Homo sapiens: one gene and its partners. The protein of the gene in region 3 purifies or fractionates together with the protein of the main gene of each other region. This does not show direct contact. Each region holds a gene or a part of one and is shown on either strand. Other genes may lie near its edges.

What was found.
Region 1: the proteins of CPNE5 (region 3) and SNTB2 purify together in Homo sapiens (affinity purification with mass spectrometry; 2 studies listed by BioGRID and IntAct, with this or other methods). This does not show direct contact.
Region 2: the proteins of CPNE5 (region 3) and RABGEF1 purify together in Homo sapiens (affinity purification with mass spectrometry; 2 studies listed by BioGRID and IntAct, with this or other methods). This does not show direct contact.
Region 4: the proteins of CPNE5 (region 3) and DHRS7 purify together in Homo sapiens (affinity purification with mass spectrometry; 2 studies listed by BioGRID and IntAct, with this or other methods). This does not show direct contact.
Region 5: the proteins of CPNE5 (region 3) and DTNB purify together in Homo sapiens (affinity purification with mass spectrometry; 2 studies listed by BioGRID and IntAct, with this or other methods). This does not show direct contact.
Region 6: the proteins of CPNE5 (region 3) and MBNL3 purify together in Homo sapiens (affinity purification with mass spectrometry; 2 studies listed by BioGRID and IntAct, with this or other methods). This does not show direct contact.
Region 7: the proteins of CPNE5 (region 3) and UTRN purify together in Homo sapiens (affinity purification with mass spectrometry; 2 studies listed by BioGRID and IntAct, with this or other methods). This does not show direct contact.

The regions. Positions count from the first base shown.
Region 1 is NC_000016.10:69,185,765-69,189,963, forward strand, and holds the start of SNTB2 (beta-2-syntrophin), read left to right. Parts: upstream 1-1,399; 5' UTR 1,400-1,402; coding exon 1,403-1,982; intron 1,983-4,199. UniProt on the Homo sapiens protein: Adapter protein that binds to and probably organizes the subcellular localization of a variety of membrane proteins. May link various receptors to the actin cytoskeleton and the dystrophin glycoprotein complex.
Region 2 is NC_000007.14:66,775,233-66,778,732, forward strand, and holds part of RABGEF1 (rab5 GDP/GTP exchange factor), read left to right. Parts: coding exon 1-161; intron 162-3,500. UniProt on the Homo sapiens protein: Rab effector protein acting as linker between gamma-adaptin, RAB4A or RAB5A. Involved in endocytic membrane fusion and membrane trafficking of recycling endosomes. Stimulates nucleotide exchange on RAB5A. Can act as a ubiquitin ligase.
Region 3 is NC_000006.12:36,742,860-36,745,444, reverse strand, and holds part of CPNE5 (copine-5), read left to right. Parts: coding exon 1-57; intron 58-294; coding exon 295-397; intron 398-918; coding exon of another isoform or gene 919-1,068; exon of another isoform or gene 1,069-1,113; intron 1,114-1,119; coding exon 1,120-1,177; coding exon of another isoform or gene 1,178-1,323; intron 1,324-1,682; coding exon 1,683-1,756; coding exon of another isoform or gene 1,757-2,155; exon of another isoform or gene 2,156-2,194; intron 2,195-2,585. UniProt on the Homo sapiens protein: Probable calcium-dependent phospholipid-binding protein that may play a role in calcium-mediated intracellular processes. Plays a role in dendrite formation by melanocytes.
Region 4 is NC_000014.9:60,146,009-60,148,398, reverse strand, and holds part of DHRS7 (dehydrogenase/reductase SDR family member 7 isoform 1 precursor), read left to right. Parts: intron 1-177; exon of another isoform or gene 178-2,390. UniProt on the Homo sapiens protein: NADPH-dependent oxidoreductase which catalyzes the reduction of a variety of compounds bearing carbonyl groups including steroids, retinoids and xenobiotics.
Region 5 is NC_000002.12:25,383,578-25,387,077, reverse strand, and holds part of DTNB (dystrobrevin beta), read left to right. Parts: exon of another isoform or gene 1-716; intron 717-965; coding exon of another isoform or gene 966-1,015; exon of another isoform or gene 1,016-1,051; intron 1,052-1,867; exon of another isoform or gene 1,868-2,012; intron 2,013-3,188; coding exon 3,189-3,242; intron 3,243-3,500.
Region 6 is NC_000023.11:132,368,820-132,371,429, reverse strand, and holds the end of MBNL3 (muscleblind-like protein 3), read left to right. Parts: 3' UTR 1-2,110; downstream 2,111-2,610. UniProt on the Homo sapiens protein: Mediates pre-mRNA alternative splicing regulation. Acts either as activator or repressor of splicing on specific pre-mRNA targets. Inhibits cardiac troponin-T (TNNT2) pre-mRNA exon inclusion but induces insulin receptor (IR) pre-mRNA exon inclusion in muscle.
Region 7 is NC_000006.12:144,487,835-144,491,334, forward strand, and holds part of UTRN (utrophin), read left to right. Parts: intron 1-838; coding exon 839-1,000; intron 1,001-2,236; coding exon 2,237-2,365; intron 2,366-3,094; coding exon 3,095-3,268; intron 3,269-3,500.

The DNA of each region.
Region 1 (4,199 bases), on a different chromosome or scaffold from region 3:
ACTGGTCTATAACTCTTGACCCCAGGTGATCCACCGCCTTGGCCTCCCAAAGTGCTGGGATTACAGGTGTAAGCCACTGCACCCGGCCCAGACTTTCTTTTTCTTTCTTTCTTTCTTTCTTTTTTTTTTTTTTTTTTTGAGGCAGAGTTTTGCTCTTGTTGCCCAGGCTGGAGTGCAATGGTGCCATCTCAGCTCACCGCAATCTCTGCCTCCCAGGTTCAAGCAATTCTCCTGCCTCAGCCTCCCAAGTAGCTGGGATTACAGGCATGTGCCACCACGCCCGGCTAATTTTTTGTATTTTTAGTAGAGATGGGGTTTCTCCATGTTGGTCAGGCTTGTCTCAAACTCGTGACCTCAGGTGATCCGCCCACCTCAGCCTCTCAAAGTGCTGGGATTAAAGGCTTGAGCCACCGCGCCCGGCCCAGACTTTCAATCTCAGGTTTATACCACTGATTCTGGGTCTCAGGCCTTTGGGCTTGGATTGGAAGTGCACCACCAACTTTCCTGGGCCTGCAGTTTGCAGATGGCAGATCGTGGGACTTCTCAGCATCCATAATCTCGTGGCCAGTCCCTTGTAATAATAATAAATTTATATATCTCTATATATCCTATTGGTTGGTTTCTCTGAAGAACCCTAAGACACCATCATTCTGCAAATATCCTTGAGGCCTGCCAATTGTGGCTTCAGGGTTTAAGAAGACATGGTTCCCTCTTGAATTACAGGCAAGTAAACGAGATTACAAAACATTGACAAAGGCTTGGATCATGCTGTTGGACCTTTGCTTGAGCTGTTCACCGTCCGTTGTTACCTCTGTGAAGCTGACCCCAGGCCTAACCAAATGTTCCTTTTATGCTGTTCTGGGGACGTCTTCTGCATGTCACTTAACCACATAGTATCACACCTAGTTGGTTGGTTCTGCATTTTCCTTCCCCACTAGACCGCAAACTCTCAGCTGTTGTTGGTACTATTGAGCTTAAGTACAGGGCCTCAAAAGGAGCCGGAGTACAGGGCTAAGCGCTCAGTACACAGGGTACGAACCAATCAATGCAAGAATGAACGTGCCACCGGGTCTTGCAGGCTTGAGAAGTGTTTCTCCAAGCTGATTTTGCTTTCCGTGCCCGGGCAGCTCCCGTGAATTGCACGGTAGAGGTCAGGAGTTTCTGGGGGGTCCGTGGGGAGCCAATGGAAGGATGAGGAGAAATGCAGTCCCACCGCATTCGGGTTGCCCACGTCCGGCGAGAGGCGAGTGATCGGACAACTTCTGCACCTCCCGGAAGCGGCTGCGCCGGCCCCGCCCCTCCAGAGGCAGGCGTGGCCTCATGAATAATGAATCGTGCGGGGGAGGGGCCGGGCCCGCCCCTCCGGGCGGGAAGAGGGAAGCGCCGAGGCTGCCTGACTGGAATGAGGGTAGCTGCGGCGACTGCGGCGGCTGGAGCGGGGCCGGCCATGGCGGTGTGGACGCGGGCCACCAAAGCGGGGCTGGTGGAGCTGCTCCTGAGGGAGCGCTGGGTCCGAGTGGTGGCCGAGCTGAGCGGGGAGAGCCTGAGCCTGACGGGCGACGCCGCCGCGGCCGAGCTGGAGCCCGCTCTGGGACCCGCGGCCGCCGCCTTCAACGGCCTCCCAAACGGCGGCGGCGCGGGCGACTCGCTGCCCGGGAGCCCAAGCCGCGGCCTGGGGCCCCCGAGCCCGCCGGCGCCGCCTCGGGGCCCCGCGGGTGAGGCGGGCGCGTCGCCGCCCGTGCGCCGGGTGCGGGTGGTGAAGCAAGAGGCGGGCGGCCTGGGCATCAGCATCAAGGGCGGCCGCGAGAACCGGATGCCGATCCTCATCTCCAAGATCTTCCCCGGGCTGGCTGCCGACCAGAGCCGGGCGCTGCGGCTGGGCGACGCCATCCTGTCGGTGAACGGCACCGACCTGCGCCAGGCCACCCACGACCAGGCCGTGCAGGCGCTGAAGCGCGCGGGCAAGGAGGTGCTGCTGGAGGGTGAGCGGGGCCGGGCGGGAGGGTGGGCAGGCCGCGGCGGCCTGGGCTCGCGGGAGCTCACTTTGTTCCTGCCCCGCCGGCGGGGCGAGCCGGTTCTCTCCCCGTCTCTCTCCAAACCCGGGTTTCTGGAGCTTTCAGTGTGGAAAAACGGATGCTTCTTGCAGGAAAAGTTGGGCAGCCGCCGAAGTGTGGCTTGCAGCCCCTAGGGAAGACTCGGCTGAGATTGAGTAAAAAGCAGCTGCCTATGAAGCCCCACCTCGGCCCGATAAGCTGACACTAAGAACTTGAGGGAGAGCGAACGGCTCGAGTGGGTCTGTCTCCGTTTGCCCGCTGAGAAGTGCCGGGTTGGCGCTTAACTCACTCACCTCTGGCTCCTCGGGGCGGGCGGGTCTATTAAAAAAAAAAAAAAGTCCATCTTCACCGATGCCAGCGGTATGCTCGGGCAAACCACCAAAGCGCTGGTTAATTTATGGGAATTTAACCCATCATTGGCTCTCAACAATAACCAAAGGAGATCATAGCATTTCATTGAAGCCAGAAAGCTGAAACAGCAAGTCTGTGTGGTTAACGAACCTTGTTTAACAGTGGAGGCTCACGTGTTTGAACATTTACTGCCAACTAGAGTTTTGCCCCTTTTGCAAGTCTGCTGCCAGCTTCCTACCACTCACAGGCGCGCTGCTTCAAGACTCTTGGGGTTTTTGTAAGAAACTTGAAATGGCAAATCACAAGATAGGTTTCAATAACCAGGATTATTCTTTACGTTAAGTTATATGTATGTGATCTGTAAGTTGGATCTTTCATGATGAATTTGAACTAAGGCAAAAATAAAATTCCTCTCCTCTAAGGACTCATGCATGTTGGAGGTGATAGAGTATTGTAAATTATAAACGAAAAGTCAGCTGCTTTCTTCAGAAATTTTTGAGCGGTCAGCTTTCTTTCACTGGTGATTATGGCTAGCTGTGTTGAAAAGAATATAAAAGAAGATGCTGTCCCTACTTGGTCTCTAGTTGGAGAAATGATAGAAAAATGCAAAACAACTTATAGGGAGGAAAGGAATGAAGTTGGTGATTACGTCGTGAAACTATACTTAAATGCCAAAGGAATGCAAAGTTAGAAAATAGTTAGTGGAGATGGAATTAGCCAGGGAGGACTTTTTCCCGAAGCTGAATCTTGAGCCAGGTCTCCAAGAAGTGATGGACATAGGCAGGCAGGGATGAGTCAGGAGGGTATTCCTGGCAGAGGAAGGACAGAAGGGAAGGGCTGGGGGCTGCTGGTGAAGAAGGACCAATCGTCAAACCGAGAGGCCAGAAGTCCAACTTGGCACAATGGATTTTCACTTTCTTATAAATCAGCTTGTGAATATTTGGAAAAATACTGATTTACCAGAAATGATTTCATGTACACCAGTTGTGAAGTTCCAGTGTCCCACCTTTATAATATCCTATTTATAAACCTTATTTATATTGCATGTCTAGGTGGGGCTAGACATTGCTCGGAAATTAGTGTTAATAGAAGGAGTAAAATTATAGATTGTGGTTTGGGTGTGTGTCCAAAAAAAACTGTTACTCTAAACGTGTACCTTGAAGTTGGTCTAGCTAAGCATTTGGTTATAAATTCTTACATCCAGAATATTGAATTTAGTACTATTTATGTAGTCCTCAGTTGTGATGGGCAGACAGTTGAACCTTGTACACCATATTTAGAAAAAAAACACAAAAAACCTTTTGGCCAGGCGTGGTGGCTCATGCCTATAATCCCAGCACTTTGGGAGGCCAAGGTGGGCAGATCACCTGAGGTCAGGAGAACATGACGAAACCTCGTCTCTACTAAAAATACGAAAATTAGCCAGGCGTGGTGGCAGATGCCTGTAATCCCAGCTCCTAGGGAGGCTGAGGCAGGGGAATCGTTTGAACCTCAGAGGTGGAGGCTGCAGTGAGCCAAGATCTCACCACTGCACTCCAGCATGGATGCCCAGCCTGGATGACAGAGCAAGACTCCATCTCAAAAACAAACAACCAACCTACTTTTTGTATAGGTATAGTTTGAACCTAGTATTCAGACCAGTAAAATGAAAACCTTGCAGTAAATGCTTCCCAGTCTTTATTGGGCTAAAATAGGCCACGTGTGCTTTTAGAAAGATGGCCGCATAATAACATGTTTATTGAATGCCTTTTTACCTAACATGCAGGTTCTACTTTATTTTCCCACTTTGTACAA
Region 2 (3,500 bases), on a different chromosome or scaffold from region 3:
GCGGGAGGAAGAAGAGGCCTTTGCCAGCAGTCAGAGCAGCCAAGGGGCCCAATCCCTCACATTCTCCAAGTTTGAAGAAAAGAAAACCAACGAGAAGACCCGCAAGGTTACCACAGTGAAGAAATTCTTCAGTGCATCTTCCAGGGTCGGATCAAAGAAGGGTAATGTTCTGATACTCTTTTTTTTCTTCTCTGCCTGAGTGAGACACAGAGGAGATCCCCAATGCTCATAAGCTCAGCTTTGTAATTTCTGTCAACTTTTTGAGAACATCAGCTCAGATTTGACACTGAAATTGGGCTTGAGGGTCAGACAGTATATGAAATCAATACTCTCTTTGGTTGAAAGACATTGTGTTTTAGAGAAATTTGTTTATAGGAGGAATCAAGAGAATTGAAATAGGTACTTTTGCTTATGAAATTCATCCCCATCCAAATGACTATCTCTTTGGATGTTTTGGTTTTTGTGCCTTTATTTGTGGATCCTGGTTTGTTCTGTGGTATAATACCCTCACTGTTCATAGCTTGTCAGAAATGGTGATTTCTAGGCTTGATAGTCATCTGAGAGAGAGATTTTCTGCCTGAGAGCTTATTTGAGAGACAGCTTGTGTCTTGAGGAAGTGTATTGAGAACATATAGGAAAAGGCCCAAGTTGGGCTCTTGGGGGGATGAAAGTGAGCCATAGTAGCTATTTTCCAGTGCATGGATTTGTATGTAGGTGATCATATTCACCCTGCTTTTTAAAATGCCATATAACCAGCAAGAGGATTGTCACTTAAGTCACAGTTGTTCTACCATTGAGCAGACTAGCTAGTTGAAGTGGCCCAACATGAAGCAAGAAAGACTCTTTGTTGTTAGGCCTCAGTCTGTCTTTGAAAATTTATGTTGGTACTCAGAGTTATGCAGTCAAAGCGAAATAATGAGGGAGACTGGGAACCAACACTGATGCTGTCAGAAGACCTGTTCTCTGGGAGCCCCCTCACTTGCTCCCCAGTTCCTACCCTGGGGTAATTGTAATGAGGTCTCCCCTGAAGGCCGGGGAATGAATAATAAGACAGTGTTACTTCTTAAGATACTTGCTGGTCTTCTAGGTTTTGTGACTTTTGCTGTTTCCTTTTGTTTTATTAAAAGGAAATATTGCTCATAACCAAAAACACACCTCTCTTTAAGACATGGATACCAGACCTGGTGCGGTAGCTCAAGCCTGTAATCTCAGCGCTTTGGGAGGCCAAGACAGATGGATTACCTGAGCTCAGGAGTTTGAGACCAGTCTGGGCAACATGGTGAAACCCCGCCTCTACAAAAAATAGAAAAATCATCCAGGCACAGTGGCATGTGCCTGTAGTTCCAGCTGAGGCCAGAAGGCTGAGGCAGGAGAATCATTTGAATCTAGGAGGAGGAGGTTGCAGTGAGCCGAAATCGTGCCATTGCACTCCAGCCTGGGTGACAGAGCAAGACCCTGTCTAAAAAAAGGAAAGAAAAGAAAAAAGATTGATTACATGATTAATTTGAAGTTGTTTCTTGGTTGGCTGCCAGTTGTAGCAATTTTATCTCTACGAAAAAGGGGGGAAAAATTAGTACCTGCCAGAGATTAAATAAGAATGTATTGGGCTCATGATTTATTTATTAGGAGGTGGAATAGCCAGGTAGTAAGGTGACTTTGGAGTCACTCCTGGTTTGAGCCCTAGCTTTGTATTTACCAGCTTTGTGACCTTGGACAGACTAACCTCTCCGAGTCCTGTCCACACTGAGGGACAATAATACCTACCAGAGGCACGTGATGAGGATTCAGTGAGTTAATGCATGTAAAGAGCTTAGCACAGTGCCTGACACACACAGTAGATCTCCAGTAAGTGTTAGCTGTTTTAAAATGCAAGTTATTCTTCTGATAGAATTATCTTGCAGGGAGCACAAGGGCATTTGCTATGAAGAATACTCATTCCTATTTAGCTTAAGGTCTGTTTCTTGATGATATGTAGTGAAATGATAAGTATTTATGATAACAGATGAAATAGTAAAACAAGTATAAAATTATCAGCTCCAATAGCCTCATTTTGCAGAGGACAGTGTGAAAGTCCATAAAGGTTAACTAATTTACCCAAGGTTGCACAATGAGTTTGTGCATGAGAACTCATGTCTCCTAATTCCTGGGTCAATATTTTTCCATTATATTCCTTTATCCAATGTGTATACTTCAGAAGCCCAGGTTATTTAATATATATCATAAATAATATATATATATGAAATTAAGTTTCTGTTACTTAAGTACATAATTGTCATTTATATTTGCTAACTCTCCTTGGTGGTTTTAAAAACCTGTGTCCCAAAAGCCTCTGTACAGTGTGCATTATACTATTGAAAGAAAATTTACAATTCAATGCAGAGTCTGTACTTTAAAAAGAAACATTTCTGGAGCTGGGTGCAGTGGCTTCTACCTACCTATAATCCCAGCTACTTGGAAGACTAAGGTAGGAGGATTACATGAGCCCAGGAGTTAGTGGCTGCAGTGAGCTCTGATTGTGCCACTGCACTCCAGCCTAGGCAGCAGAGTGAGACACCAACATTAAAAAAATTAATTAATTAATAAAGAATCCAGGTGAATTTTGTTTTAAAAATATGTATGCAGAATGATTTTTACCTTTGTTCTTGTCTCCCCTCATCCCCCATCTTTTTGAATGATAGATTTGTACTTTAGATTGTTTGTTCTTTAGTTGCTTTTTGTCTGTAGAAAGCTTTGGGGATAAAGACCTTAAAGTATTTTAAAAATTCATGTTAGAAAAGAAGATTCCATTGTATCTTTGTTTCACAGATCACTTAATATAACTTAGCCAGGTAAATTTTGCATTTCACACTGATTACTTTTGTTTGGCCATTGTGTTTGGATAAGATTAGCCTAAGTGCCGTTTTAATGTATTAGGTCTAGACTAGAAACAGACTTTTTGGATTCTGTATTCTTGAATCTTCCTTAGTCCATGATACCCTTGCTGTTGGTGTTTTACTTGCTTCTGTTAGTAGCATAAAGGAAAGTTTTTATGCCATACGTAGCAGCTTGGTAGCAGACAAAATACAAATAACCTTCTAAGGAATTTGAAGAATATCTTCACATTCTTTTAGAGTTGGATACGCCTTCAGAGAAAGTAAATGGAATGTCTTGACTGTAAAGACTCAGTTAAAGTGTTTTAGTCTCTACAGTCAGGGTGAGTGAGCTGTATAGAGGAAGTCATAGTGGTTGACCAAGCTGAGATACTTGCTTATACATTCCAAAGTGCCCTTTTCTTTCAGAACTCCTATAATGTTGTCATTCCAAGTAGAATCTTGTGTACCTCTTTCATGAACGGATCTGAAGACGGTGATTCTCTAAAGCATATCTTTTCATTTTTAGAGTTAAAATACCAATACCACCCAGACCTTAGAAAGTAAACCTATTATTCATTAAAGTGAATCAGGGCTTCTTGGAGAAGTGACTGATTCTGGGGCTAGAGTAGGGAAAAAAGGGCCCCTTCA
Region 3 (2,585 bases):
CACTGTGCAGCTGTACGGCCCCACCAACTTTGCCCCCGTGGTCACCCACGTGGCCAGGTGAGTGCCGCTGCCACCGCCTCCAGGCACTCACAAGGCCTCTGTTTCCACACCAGCTCTGCCTCTGGGTGGTGGGAGGGGGTTTCTCTTCCCACGCACTTGCCTTTCAGGGAGCCCTGACCCTGAAGAGATTCCCCCAAGAGCTGTCACCCTCCAAAGTGTTCAGGGTCCTTGTTTAGGGGGGAACATGCCCAGAGGTCCCGCAGACAGACCTGAGCCCACACCTGCCCCACCCAGGAATGCAGCGGCCGTGCAGGATGGCTCCCAGTACTCGGTGCTGCTCATCATTACTGATGGGGTCATCTCGGACATGGCGCAGACCAAGGAGGCCATTGTCAACGTAAGCAAGGAGTGTGCGGTGGGGGAGGCGGTTTGAGGAGTGTCTTCCTCCCCGTTAGGGGAACCCTGGGGATGTGCCTACCTCCTTGACCTTAGGGAAATGCTTGGAGATGACTTGGGCGTGGCTTCTCATTTCCCTGCCTCACTGGGCCCCACTGCCCTCATCCACCTTCTGGCCTCTGGCTGCAGAGTCCGGTGCTGGATAGTGGATTCTAGCGGGTGGAAGGGGTGCCCAGATCATGAGAGATCTGGCTGGTGAGCTCTGTTCCCACCTCTTAGTCACGCTCTGGTCTACTCCCTCCAGACCCCAATGACTCCCTCATTAACCCATCTCTAGGACCGCTTCCCCCTTTCCCAGGCCAGCCTGGCCAGGTCAAAGGAGTGGGAGGGGAGGCTCAGAGTTGGGGAAGCTCAGGAACATGGCTCCCCAAGCCGGTGGTCTCCCTGTAAGAGGGGATGGGGGTGACTCACCAAAGCAGACCTATGACCCATTCCCCCTGCCACCCTCCCTCTCTCCTCCAGGCGCAGCCTGGTTTCCTTTGCTCTTTATCTCTGAGTGCCCTCCCTCTCCCTACCCCCTTTTCTGTGTTTCTCTGTCTCTCCATGTTCACTCTCCCATTTCTTTCCTGCCCACCCCTTCCTGTCCTACCCCTGATTTCTCCTTCCTTTTAACTGGGTCCCAATTGGGTCCAACCTTTCCCTGCCCCCCATGCTGTCTCCCAGGCTGCCAAGCTCCCCATGTCCATCATTATCGTCGGCGTGGGCCAGGCAGAGTTCGACGGTGAGTCCAGCTGCTGCCTTCCCCTCCTTTCCTTCCCTAGCCACGCAACCCTGCCCCCACCCCAGATGTTTCCCCAGAGGCTGTGGTCCCCTGGGAATGACCCCTCCCAAAAGAGTGAGAGCTCCCGCCTGGGCGTGTGTGTCTGGGTGAGTGTGCAGGGTGTGGGACGCATTTGTTTGCTCAGGGAAGGGTGTGTCAGGTCTGGGTGTGCACCCACACCCACATCCCAAGGCTGTGGGGAGGAGGCCCCAAGTCACTTCTTTCTCCTCCAGCCCTGGGAGTCTGGGGAGGGTGGTGAACCAAAGCACTGGGCTCAAAGTCAGAGGCTCACCTGATCGGGCTCCTCCTGGCCCCTGGCCTCAGTTTCCTCATCTCTAACACGGGGCATGGGCCAGTGGTCTCGGCCCTGGATTGGCCTGGGATGAAAGGACAAGTCCACTCTCCTGCTAGGGCCAGGGGTCCACCGTTAATCTCACCCCGCCCCATGACACTCCTCCCCTCACAGCCATGGTGGAGCTGGATGGCGACGACGTGCGGATCTCCTCCCGGGGGAAGCTGGCTGAACGCGACATCGTCCAGGTGAAGCCCAGGCCTTGCCTGCCCCATGGGAAATTCAAGAGCCCCTCTAGCCAGGCGGACCTCACACCCCCTTTGGGGGCTTCCCTGGTGAAGGGCCCAGAAGGGAGGCACTGGGAGCCCCAAAGTGGCCCAGCCACCACCGAAGGGAGTAGGAGTCAGTCCTCGGCCATGCTGTGGTCTGGGCTGGGCCCCCCTCTGTCACATCTGGGACACACTCCTAACATTGCGGGTGCCCAGCCAGAGGCCAGAACCCTCTGCCAGCCCTTCCTCAGCCTCCAGGCCTCTGTGGTCAGCCTCGTTCTGGTTTTTTTCTGCCCCTTGAAGGCTGAGGCAGTGTCTTTAGTGTTGCTGCAGCCTTCTCCAAGAATAGGCATTGCTCGGTTAACTGAATCAATGTAAGCATCTCCATGAACGGTGCAAATATAATGAGCAGAAAGACCTTTGTCCTCAGGGAATTCCCATGCAGTCTCACGTGGAAGAATGCACCCTCCGCAAGCACTTCCCCCACTCATCCCCTGCAGAGGAGGCCCTAGTGCTTAGGAGATGCAGAAGACAAAGCTGACATCCTGCATACCCCCTTGGTTTAAAAATTGGGGCCCAGTATCCCAGGTGTGGAGACCAAACATAGGGGGCTGGAAACCAGAGCAAGACAACCTGGGAGGTGGGACCGGCCCATGCTAAGGCCTGGAGGCAGGAGTGAGCCAGAAGAGGCGCTCAGGATGGAGGGCACCCCCGGGAAGAAGCCAGATGGGCCTGGCATTAGGCATTGGCCAGATTAGCCCCAGAGAGAAAAGGAACGAAGAGAGGCCAGAGAGAGAGGGCTCTGCTG
Region 4 (2,390 bases), on a different chromosome or scaffold from region 3:
TTATAGATGATTATGCAGCAAAAGATTATTGCTGAGGATGGTTTTTACTGTTAGCCTTTGATATACTTTGTTACCACCTTCTTTTAGAAATTAATCAATGGGGATTGACAGATAAAAAAAGAATTATAAAACAAGATCATACTATATATACCTGCAAAAATTTAAGCAATCCACTAATTGTTAGACATTTAATTTATTCCAACTCTTTGCAGGACAGTGAAAATGAATTAGGGGGTAAAAAGTTACAAACACAACAAAATGCTTAAGAGACATAAAAGGTTATCAGACTGGGTCATGACACACTAAAATGTCCAGAGTGTGAAAAATCAAAAAGGAGCTTTTCGTTTTCTACCAAGTAGTAATGTGGAACAGTTTGCTTTGGGCCAGATCCCTTATGAGTGTTTTGGTATTGTTGGGACTTGGTAGTGTGGGTAGAAGCTCTAAAGGTAGAGTTTCATCAAAGAGTATACCTGAGTTTTAAATATGGAGGACAGCTGATGCAGTAGCTTTGTGCCCAGTGATGGAAAGAGTTGAGAGGGACAGGCCACCTTACTACAGAGGAAGCACAGCCTCCTGGCAGAGCATGCAGCCTGGTGCTAGGCTACCTGGGTTCAAATCCCAGCTCTGCCCCATGCCCTTAAAGCAAGTTACTTCTCTATCACTCAGTCTCCCCATCTATTAATATAAGATGGAGATTAATGATGATAATAGTGCCCAGTCACAGGATTGTTATGGGAATTACATGAATTTAATATATGAAAAGCACTTAAAACACAACTTGGAGTGTTCTAAGTGTTAGCTATTGTGCTTTTTCCCCCTTCTCAGCTTGAGTTAGATATAGCAGGATATTCAGCTTCCTTAATGATCAAAGATTTTCTTTATAATTGACACATAAAAATTATATATATTTAAGGTATACATTGTGATGATCTAATATACACTGTAAAATGATTACCACAATCAAGCTAATTAATACATGTCACCCAGTTACCTTTTTTTGTGTGTGGTGAGAACACTTAAAATCTTCTTAGCAAATTTCAAATATGCTATACAGTATTATTAACTGTAGTCACCATGCGGTATATTAGATCCTTAGAATCTGTAAATTATAATAACATAAGTTATTTATCTTATAACTGAAAATATCTACCATTTTTTTTCTTTGAGACAGGGTCTCGCCCTGTCACCCAGGCTGGAGTCTGCAGTGGCGTGATCATGGCTCACTCCCATCTCTACCTCCCAGGCTCAAGCAATCCTCCCACCCCAGCCTCCTGAGTAGCTGAGACTATAGGCGCACACCACCATGCCTGGCTAGGTTTTGTAGTTTTTGTAGAGACGGGTTTTTGCCACGTTGCCCAGGCTAGTCTCAAACTCCTGGGCTCAGGCGATCCACCTACCTTGGCCTCCCAAAGTGTTGGGATCATAGGTGTGAGCCACTGTGCCTGGCCAAAATGTGTACCTTTTGACCAAGATCTCCCCATTTCCTCCATCTTCTGGCTCCTGGCAACCATCATTCTACTCTGCTTTTGAGTATGACTTTTTAGATTCCACAGAAGTGAAATCACATAGTACTTGTTTTTCTGTATCTTGCTTATATCACTTAGCATTAACGTCCATTCATTATCCATGTTTTCACAAATGCCAGGAGTTCCATTGTTTTATGGCTGAAAAATATTCCATTGTGGAATAATATTCCATATATATATATACACACACAGACACACACACACATTTTCTTTATCCATTCATTCACTAATGGACACTTAGGTTGTTTCCATATCTTGGCTATTATGAATAATGCTAAAATGAACATGGGAGTGTAGGTATCACTTCAAGGTACTGATTTCACTTCCTTTAGATTTATACCCTTAAGTGGAATTGCTGGATCAGATGGTAATTCTATTTTTAATTTTTTGAGGAATTTCCGTATTTTCCATAATGTCTGTACTGGTTCACATTCTCAATTTAAATAATAGGGCAGAGAAAGAATATATTATAGAAGTGATTTTTTTTTCAAAGGGGAAAGAGGGACCAGGGACTAGAGAATTTCAGTCCCACTGTAGTAGTACTTCCAGAAATGTCCATATGAAGGATATTTTGTTTTGTTTAGAGAATATCTAACTGTAAAATATAAACATCATTTAGCAAATCTCGCATTTTTTTTACATCTAGGTTTTTCTAAAAAAATGACAGCCTTTTTCTTCCTACCACCATCTTTGAAATATTGCTTATTATATAGTCTTACTACTTTGTCACTCTTTATTATAAGCTGGGCATTCTGTCATTTCTCAAAGCAATTTTTAGGACATAATACCTCATTCTTTATAGTCTGTACTCTTCCTCTCTCCCACTATTTTATATTTTATATATATGTATATATATAAATTTTC
Region 5 (3,500 bases), on a different chromosome or scaffold from region 3:
TATCTCAGGAGTGCATCTTGTGGAGCAAGCTGAATGTAGAGAAATTCAGACCTTTCAGTGCAGGCAGGCCCCTTCCTCACTTACCTCGTCTTCCATCTGTACTTTGTCCACAGCCGCTCTCTCCCTAGGCCTGACCGACCACCTCATTCTGAAACTTCCCTGGAGGTCTGGAGCGGAATCAGCCAGGAAAGCTCTGGACCTTCCCCTGCTGCCTTTCTGCTCTCTCCTGTTTGATTTGTTTTTGAAACCTATTCCCTCCTTTTGTCCGTGACCAGGCTCTGATTTCACCTGAAGTTCATGACCTGAGTCTGTCGCCTCTTCTGCTCCTTGTGTTCAGCTCATCTGTGACTTCTTTCTCAGTCTCTCCATCACCTCACCAATTCAGTGACTTCCCAAAGACCTTTACCTCGTGGCATTTCACCTTACATAAAACCCAGGAAAGAGAGAGAAAATAAAAGGCCATTCACGTATCCTCCTATCTCCAGGAATCCCCATGACTCTACCAGTTACGTAGGGGCCAGAGAGTCACTAACGATTTCACAGCGGTGGGGTCTCCATGTTTTGTGTTAAACTAATGGTTTCCCTCCCTAAGCGCTGTAGGTCACTCACACTGATGGCTCTCTTTTGTTTCTTTCCACCTAATGTAGTGCTTTTAAATACCTTGAAGTAGCTTAACAGGATTATTAAATAAAAAGATAAAGCAGTTTTTCCACGGACGATTCAAACACATACACTTATTCAAACACTCTTAGGGAAGGCAAGCCTTGGGTATTTTTCAGCCCTTCGTAGGAGAAAGCTCACATGTTTAGGGTTGTCATGGGACTGGACAGAGCCCCCAGCTCTGCTCTCAAGTCTGCCTGTTTTCATACAGACCAAAGTGAGTGTATAGCCCAGCTTCGTCTTTCCAGTCAGTTAAGGTCAGACGCTGCCTCTCTTGTTTGATGGTGCCACCCTCTCCATTCTAGCACTGTTTCTCAACCCCCATCAGAAGCACGGCCCCGCTCTGTACACATAAACAGAAGAGGCGACAGCCTTCAGGATGACCTCACAGGTGATTAGAAGGCGCTTTCCCTAATGCAGCTCCCCACAGATGTCAGAAATCCCACTTTTAGAGGAAATTTCTCAGGGAATTTCGGGCCATGGGAATTAACTACACTTGTACTTCATGGCCACTTATTAGAGTTTATGCAAAATAAGTGGCTTCTGCGTTCATCGTGCTAGGGTGAGAGGTCATTAAATACCATTAAGTGGAAAGCACATAGAGACCAAATAGCTTCACAAAAATGTAAAGCTTATAGGAATCCTCAGCAGTGTCTCATAGTAAGAAAGGATGGTTTCAACAAAATTATGTAGTGTAATTTGGAAGGTGCCTTAGAGAGCACATTGTCCAGTCCCTTACTTTAGAGATGTAGCCTGTGCTTATCAGAAAAGTGGTCTGCCTAAGGTCGTGCAGCTTGAAGGGGGAAAGCTGGTCCTAGAACCTGGGTCTTCAGAGCATCAAGCCAGAGATCTTACTCCCCTCCAGGACAAGATAGCAAACCCAGAGTCCCAGAGGCCCCTTTCCCTGATGCTGTCCTCTCAGTCACTGAAGCCTGTAGGTAGACGTGGACCAAAGCCACACATGGCACGGTATCCCTCTAACATGCAGACATAAACTCCCTTTACATGTGAGGGTGCCAATTTCTCAGTGAATGGAATAGCTTCACCCATCACCAACATGTTTTTACTGTCTCCTTGACAGTGACTTGACAGGTTTTTGTTCCAATGAGAGGACATACTCAGATTATCTTTACATATATTCTATACAGTGTATACATACTGTATATACATAGCTTGTAGTCCTCATCTTTATAAAGTTTTTTCACAGATAATCGAATCCTAGAATTGGAAAGGATCGAGGCCACAGGCACAGTGGCTCACACCTGTAATCCCAGCACTTTGGGAGGCTGAGGCAGGTGGATCACCTAAGGTCAGGAGTTTAAGACCAGCCTGACCAACATGATGAAACCCCGTCTCTACTAAAAATACAAAATTAGCCTGGCATGGTGGTGCATGTCTGTAATCCCAGCTACTCGGGAGGCTGAGGCAGGAGAATCGCTTGAACCTGGGATGCAGAGATTGCAGTGAGCCAAGATCGCGCCGCTGTAGTCCAGCCTGGGCAATGAGCAAAACTCCATCTCAAAAAAAAAAAAAGAAAAGAAAAGAAAAAAATTGTAAAGGATGTTAGAAGTCATTTAATCCAACTCGCCACCCAATAAAACAGTCCTCTGAATATTTCCAGCGAGCTCATTCATGATCAACTCTAATCACTGGAAACTTCTTCCTCAGTGGGGAGCCAAAATCTCACTTTCTGTAACTGATTTATCCCTGTCCTCTCAAGCTACCCAGGATAAGCTCAGTCCCTCCTCTGCAGGCTCGCCTTTCACGGGTTGGATGGCAAATGACAACCCTTCCTAGTTTTCTCCTCTGTAGACTGCTACACCCAATTCCTTCAACCTTTCCAAACGTGACATGGTTTTCTCTTACCAGCCTGCTTGACCATACCAGGATGTGGCCATTTTCCAAGGCTCCTATTCAAAGTACATGCCCAGGGCCCAGCACCCTGCTCTCCATCACAGGGGATCTTGTCCCTGCAGAGCACAAGGCATCTGTGACCCTCTTGAGTGTCCCCTGGAAAAGCACCTTAGACGGCATTAGCACTTCCCACATAGCCACTTTGCACTGTGCGGTCATTTTAAGTTTATCATCAGCTAAAACATACGGAATTTTTTTTTTTTAACAGAACCCCGTGTTAATCTAGGTATTCCCCCACCATATATTGTATGGTCACTTTCTTAAACCTGAATGCAAGACATTAGATGTCTCCCTGGTCATCACCACCTGAGGGCAGACAGGCATAGAACAGAGGCACGCAACCCCACACTGCACGCCCCCAGCCCTGGTCAGGAAAGTGAGCGATGTGACCGCACTGCTCCCTTTGGGCTGTGGTCTTACGGGCTCCTATTCAGCAGTGCTGGGGCGTGGGCCGCACAAGTGCAGACTGGTGAGCTGAAGCACCCTCAGAGGCCTGCAGCCAGGAGCTGTTAGCTAGAGTTTCCTCCCAAGCCTCAGCAGTTGCTTTGTTCACCCTCCTTCTGTACTTGTCCTGTGCCGAAGGGTCACTGGCCTCCTTGGACTTGTTTTCACAGCAGAGGAAGGTGCAGAGGAAGAAGAAGAGAAGATGCAGAATGGGAAAGACAGAGGTAAAGGCAGCTCAGCAGGACTGCTCGTTTAAATGGGGAGCCCGAGCTCATGGATCAGCCGCCCCCCACTTTGTTTCTGCATTCCTCCCTGCCACCACCTTTCCCAGAGCTTTCGGACCCGAGGTCCCTGTACCTACTTTTCCCATCTGACAGTCAGGTTTTACCTTCCAGGTGACAAGGTCAGTCGATCACCAAGAGCTTCCTCATTTCCTGATCCTGGGATAGGTAGTTGGGATACAGGAAGTAGATACAAGTAGA
Region 6 (2,610 bases), on a different chromosome or scaffold from region 3:
TAAGAAAGTAAATGTAATTTAGTAATACTTTATTCTGCCTTATTTCAAAATGCTTCAAAAATGCGAATCTGGAACTTCTCTGCATTGACCACTGTTCTGGAGTTGGGCTGATAGAAAACTGCGGTGAAGAGAGTTTAGATCAGAGGCTATGGCAGAGCAAAGTATTACTGATGTGTCTCTTAACAGTGAAGAGGGTCGGGGAGGAGGTTGGGTCCTTGTCAAGTGTCAGCTGCCCTATACATAGTTCTCTTGCCCCTTGTGCCCTGTTTTACTATTTCTAAGGTGGTTCCCATGATGGCATTTCTTGATAAGCCCACTTTGAGCCGTTTAATGTTTTGTAGGTGTTTCTGTGAGTCTGATAATACCAGCACTAAAAACAGTTCAGTATATAGACATTTACAAGAGGTCTTAGGCCTCTTCAGAATTCAGTTAATGTCTTTCTCTTTGAGGCTGCTGAATGTTAGGTAAGAATTCAGGGCAAGCATTCCCGACCATCATCAAATTGGAGACTTGGAGTTTCTATTGGCTGGAAGAAAGTTGACCCACAGGCAAAACCAGATGTAAACCAAGTTTGTCTTGGGTACTTTTCAAATTCTTTTCACAGCATCCTTTTCTCATCCCTCATGGTGGCCTCTGGCCCTGGAAAATCCTCATGATAGCAACTTATCAGGCCTGTTTCCTCTGATAGATCTGGACTTTTCCCCTTAAGTGCTTTCCTGTTGGGCTTCTCAGACTATGGAGAACTGCTCATAGTTGAGATCTAAGAGACAAATTACCCTATGGTGTTCAAGAATGGCCGTATTTAGTATACTGCCTGTCCTGGAAGTGTTCACATTTAAAAAGGCATGACTTTCCAATGGGCAAATATCAGACACCTACATGCATAGATAAGGGAAATATGTTTTACTTAAGCAAACTTCTAGGCATTGAATCTCAGTGTTTAGGTGCAGAGATGGAATTCCTATAAGCAATGCAGTCATTCACCACATCAGGAAGGCCAAAAAATGAACACTCTCGTAATTTTGTTATTATCTGGAAAGTTCTGATATGATAATGAACCTAAAATACTGAATAGATAGTGAACATCCTAAAATTCCACTGACCAGAATCCATTCCCATGGTCATCATCTGTAGAGGGCATGATACAATGACAGGCCTGAGGTATGATTATAATTCTGGAGTAATTTAAAGCCTATATTTGTTAAACTTTAACAGATGGACACACATTCTCTGATTTTCTACTTGGCTCTTTCCTGTACTAGAAATGCGCATTTAACTAAACCTTCCCAGCTTTTCTGTTCAGTGCCTGACTTACACTACTCCCTTAGGCAGGAGGACAGTGGGTGTCTGGGGAATAAAAGCCAAGAGCTCCAAACAGAGGATTTTGGATACAAAGGGCAGCCACCAGGAAATAGCTTTGTGAGAGGGACAGACTATCTGATTCCCATTTGTACAAACATGTCCAAAGCAAAAGCACAGCATTCTAAAGTGGATGCAGAAATTAGTATACAATGGCAGTTCTGGCCAGTGCAGCCCAGCATTTTTCTGTTGTGCATGGAAAGAACACAGTGAAAAGGCAGGCAGGGCATCCGGTGCAAAGTGCAACAGACATAGACACACAAATCCAGTTTTCCTGATGAGAGAGGGAGCTATCTCTTCATAAGTGATGCAATGCAATGCAGGCATGTACAAGTACAAGGAAAGATTTATTTTTAAAAAATCATAGTGTAACTGGATGAATACCAGCAACAGCACCTGCTAAAGCAAACAGCCTGTTCATTAAAAACTGGACTTGAGGGAATGGAGAAAGAATCTGAGGAGCCTGCAGTCAGCATGCTTGCAGAGACCTTATGGCTACAGAAGACGATGATTAACCCATAGAGGTTCAATGTAGTTTTCAAGAAGAGGGTGGGAAAGCATAAGATGGGGACTAAGACTTTGCCTTTAACCTTCATGACATGAAGAATTGAATGACTCTTTGTTGGAAAAAATGGCAGTTATGAGATAATTGGATCCATGTTAATTATATATATTTCTGTATATATAGTAAGTGGTTATTGATGTGCCTTTGTTAACCATTTCACTATTTAATAAATGTGTGTGTAGTTTATTCAAAGTGTTTCAGTCCTTCTCAATTTCTATGAAAAAAGTCCCAAGTTAAATCCACTTACGGGTAGTTATACTAGGAAAACTTGCACCCATAAGAATCCCTGCAAACAGTGGTCATAATTTGGGGCTCACAGAAAGGGCTGCCAATGAAAGTCAAGCGGTATTTGTTCTAACAATCACACCCCATTTTCACAATTCATATACAAAACCTCAGTGATAAGCAAGTGTTTACCATAAACTGAACTACAAGCCAGCGGTAGAGAACACTCTAATAAGCAACTCCTTTCTTCTGATGGACACCATCAGAAATACTAAAGAAGCCTGGAATCTCAGTGTCATTGGGATGAAATTCTGGATCCAGAGGAACACCCAAACCACTCAGGAACAATATCCAAGGAGTGTCAGGCATCCCAACATGTTGTCCTCTACTCTCCACATTCTGGAGAAATGTTCCTATGGGGGAAAAAAATACAGCTCTAGATATTGTTAGGGTGGCTTAGG
Region 7 (3,500 bases), about 110 Mb from region 3:
TTGAGGGTATTGAAATATTCAGAAAGGAAGAATAGATCTAACACTCTAAGACAGAACTGGATGATTAAAAAAATTATTTTTGAGATTACTTCTACTTACAAACATTTAATTTTCATTAAGGATCATATGATAGCTGTATATAAGAACAACAACTCATACTATCCTAGTAAATATTAGGGCCATGATATTTCACATAAGCTGCTGTGAAAGCCATAGTCTCTTAGTTCATATCCAGGTTGTAACATACATATTCGTATCACAAATTAGAGAAAGAACATTTCTTTTATAGGAAGGTTGGGTATGAATATTAGGTGCTTCCAAACACATATTAAATAATAACTGTTGATGTTCAGCCCATGAATAACATCAAGCTTAACCCAAAAGTGCTGTAAATAGTAGTTTGATATGTATGTACACCTATAGAATTTGTTTTAGGCTTTGGAAAAAAAGAGACTCTGATGTTTGTGTATTGATAGACATTTTTCTTATGTTTTATATTCTTAATTGGCAGACATTGCTGATTCCTAAAAATGCTTTAAAATTATAATAAATAACACATTTTTATCTTCTGTTTAATGCATCTTATGGGAAACCTTTACATTTTTGTATTTCAACATTATATATAGAAAGAAGTAATAATTAGTAATTCAGCTGCATGGTACATAAGATCCTAGTGGGACATTTTCACTGTTATCATTAGTAATTATTATTTATTTATAAAGAAAGCTAAAGTCTTGGATGAAAGCTTTTATGGTCTTTTCTTAGTGGCCAGAATATATATATTCTGCTATTTATATTTGTGTTGGGCAACTAATGATTCAATTTCTCCTTTGTGCAGGCAGAGAGCAAGCAGATTTCTTTGGAAAAGCAACTCCAGGTGCTGCGGGAAACTGACCAGATGCTTCAAGTCTTGCAAGAGAGCTTGGGGGAGCTGGACAAACAGCTCACCACATACCTGACTGACAGGATAGATGCTTTCCAAGTTCCACAGGAAGCTCAGGTATTGCCGTGCATTTGAGGGCTTTTGAGCTGTAAAGAGAGCTTTTGTAATTGCCTCCTCAACTATAAGAGAACCCCTCCTGCTCTCCAAAACCGAGAGTCAATGGGAAAGATTGACCTTACTTACAGGGCAGCATTTGGGTTTTGGAGTTCTCTTGCTTTCTATGTGAGACTCTGGCAAAAGTCTTATATAGTTTATTTTATTTTATTTTATTTTATTTTATTTATTTATTTGAGACAGAATCCCACTATGTCACCCAGGCTGGAGTGCAGTGGCACGATCTTGGCTCACTGCAACCTCCGCCTCCTGGGTTCAAGTGACTCTCCTGCCTCAGCCTCCCGAATAACTGGGACTACAAGCACGCGCCACCACGCCCGGCTAATTTTTTGTAGTTTTAGTAGAGACGGGGTTTCGCCATGTTGGCCAGGCTGGTCTTGAACTCCTGACTTCAAGTGATCTGCCTGCCTCGGCCTCCCAATAATTTTTGTATTTTTAGTAGAGACGGGGTTTTGCCATATTGTCCAGGCTAGTCTCAAACTCCTGACTTCAGGTGATCCACCTTCCTCGGCCTCCCAAAATGCTGGGATTACAGGCGTGAGCCACTGTGCCTGGCTGAAAAGTCCTGTATATTTTAAATTGTAGTTTTCTTAGCTGTGAAGTTGGGACAATTCCTTCCTTATAAATAAGTTGTGAACATTAGAAACGACAAATGCAAAGCCCTTAGCAGGTGCGTCATGTACAATAGTCATACCATGCAGTGGGCCATATTATTATTATTATACAAAAACGTATTATTATTATTTTTTAGACGGATTCTCACTCTGTTGCCCAGGCTAGAGTGCAGTGGCGCGATCTCGGCTCACTGCAAACTCTGCCCCACAGGTTCAAGCAATTCTCCTGCCTCAGCCTCCCGAGTAGCTGGGATTATAGGCGCCCGCCACCGTGCCCAGCTAATTTTTGTATTTTTAGTAGAGATGGGGTTTCACCATCTTGGCCAGGCTGGTCTTGAACTCCTGATGTCGTGATCCACCCGCCTCGGCCTCCCAAAGTGTTGGGATTACAGGCATAAGCCACCGCACCTGGCCTACAAAAACTTATTAAAGCTTCTGTGGAGGTCAACATTATGTAAAATACGATATCATGTATTACACAACGATATAGAACTTTTGTATTGTCTCTTTTTATACTTAAGTAAAAAAAAAAGGACATCCTCTCCCCTTTCCAATCTCTTTTTAGAAAATCCAAGCAGAGATCTCAGCCCATGAGCTAACCCTAGAGGAGTTGAGAAGAAATATGCGTTCTCAGCCCCTGACCTCCCCAGAGAGTAGGACTGCCAGAGGAGGAAGTCAGATGGATGTGCTACAGGTAAAGAAGGCCAGGAGCTTCCTTTTACTTTTCAACTTGTTGGGAATTTTCTTCAAAAAAGAGAAAGAATTGATTACTTGGGCACCGTTTGTATTCTTTGTGATGTAAACCATGGGATGGGAGTGATGATGTGTTGAAGGTTGCATCCTAGGGCAGCAGAAACAAATTGTTGCATGTGTGGAAAAATATGAAATCTGATTTTGATAGCTGAGATGAGAAACAAGAGAGTGAGCCAGATTTAGAAGTTAGCTTTATATACACTTTTTCTTTAATGCAGAGCCTCTGTCAGTATCGTGTGGCTGATGCTGTGGGCAGGCCGAGCATGAATTGGATGCAGCATCATTTAGTTCTTTCATGGTTGATATGACATTGACTTTCACTCTGAACTTGTGATGAAGGGCATTTTGAGTTCTAGGTTCCTGAACTATCTTTTTGAACATGAAGTTTTAATTCCAGTGAGGTCAGCTTTATCTAAATTTCTTATCCAAATCTATTACTTCTGAGATTGAGACACTGAGTGTTGTAATTTTTGACACTGGGCTATGCAGTTCACTTAGGTGATCGGGTACCCTCACTGAGATTCATTAGGAGTTTTTTATTTTGGGTCATATTTCTGAATTTTTTTCTTTTGGTACTTTATGGTACAAATTTTTAGTAGTATCTGTTATGCTCATGATGAGAGAGATAATCATCCTGATGGGAATTGCATATTTTCATTTCTGCAAACAGAGGAAACTCCGAGAGGTGTCCACAAAGTTCCAGCTTTTCCAGAAGCCAGCTAACTTCGAGCAGCGCATGCTGGACTGCAAGCGTGTGCTGGATGGCGTGAAAGCAGAACTTCACGTTCTGGATGTGAAGGACGTAGACCCTGACGTCATACAGACGCACCTGGACAAGTGTATGGTGAGGCTTTTGGGTGATTGGCACATCCAGTGGCTTTTTCAGCAGCTGTTATGGCTTGGTCTAGCAAGTACATGCCTAGTGTGTCCAGTGATCACTAGTCTACAGTGTGCTAAACATAAGGATTGATGATGGAAAACGTGTTAAAAAATAAGAAGTGTGGTCTTTCCCTCCAAAGAAATTAGAAGAGATAAGAGAGATAGCTAAGGAAACTAGAATAGACATGTATATAACA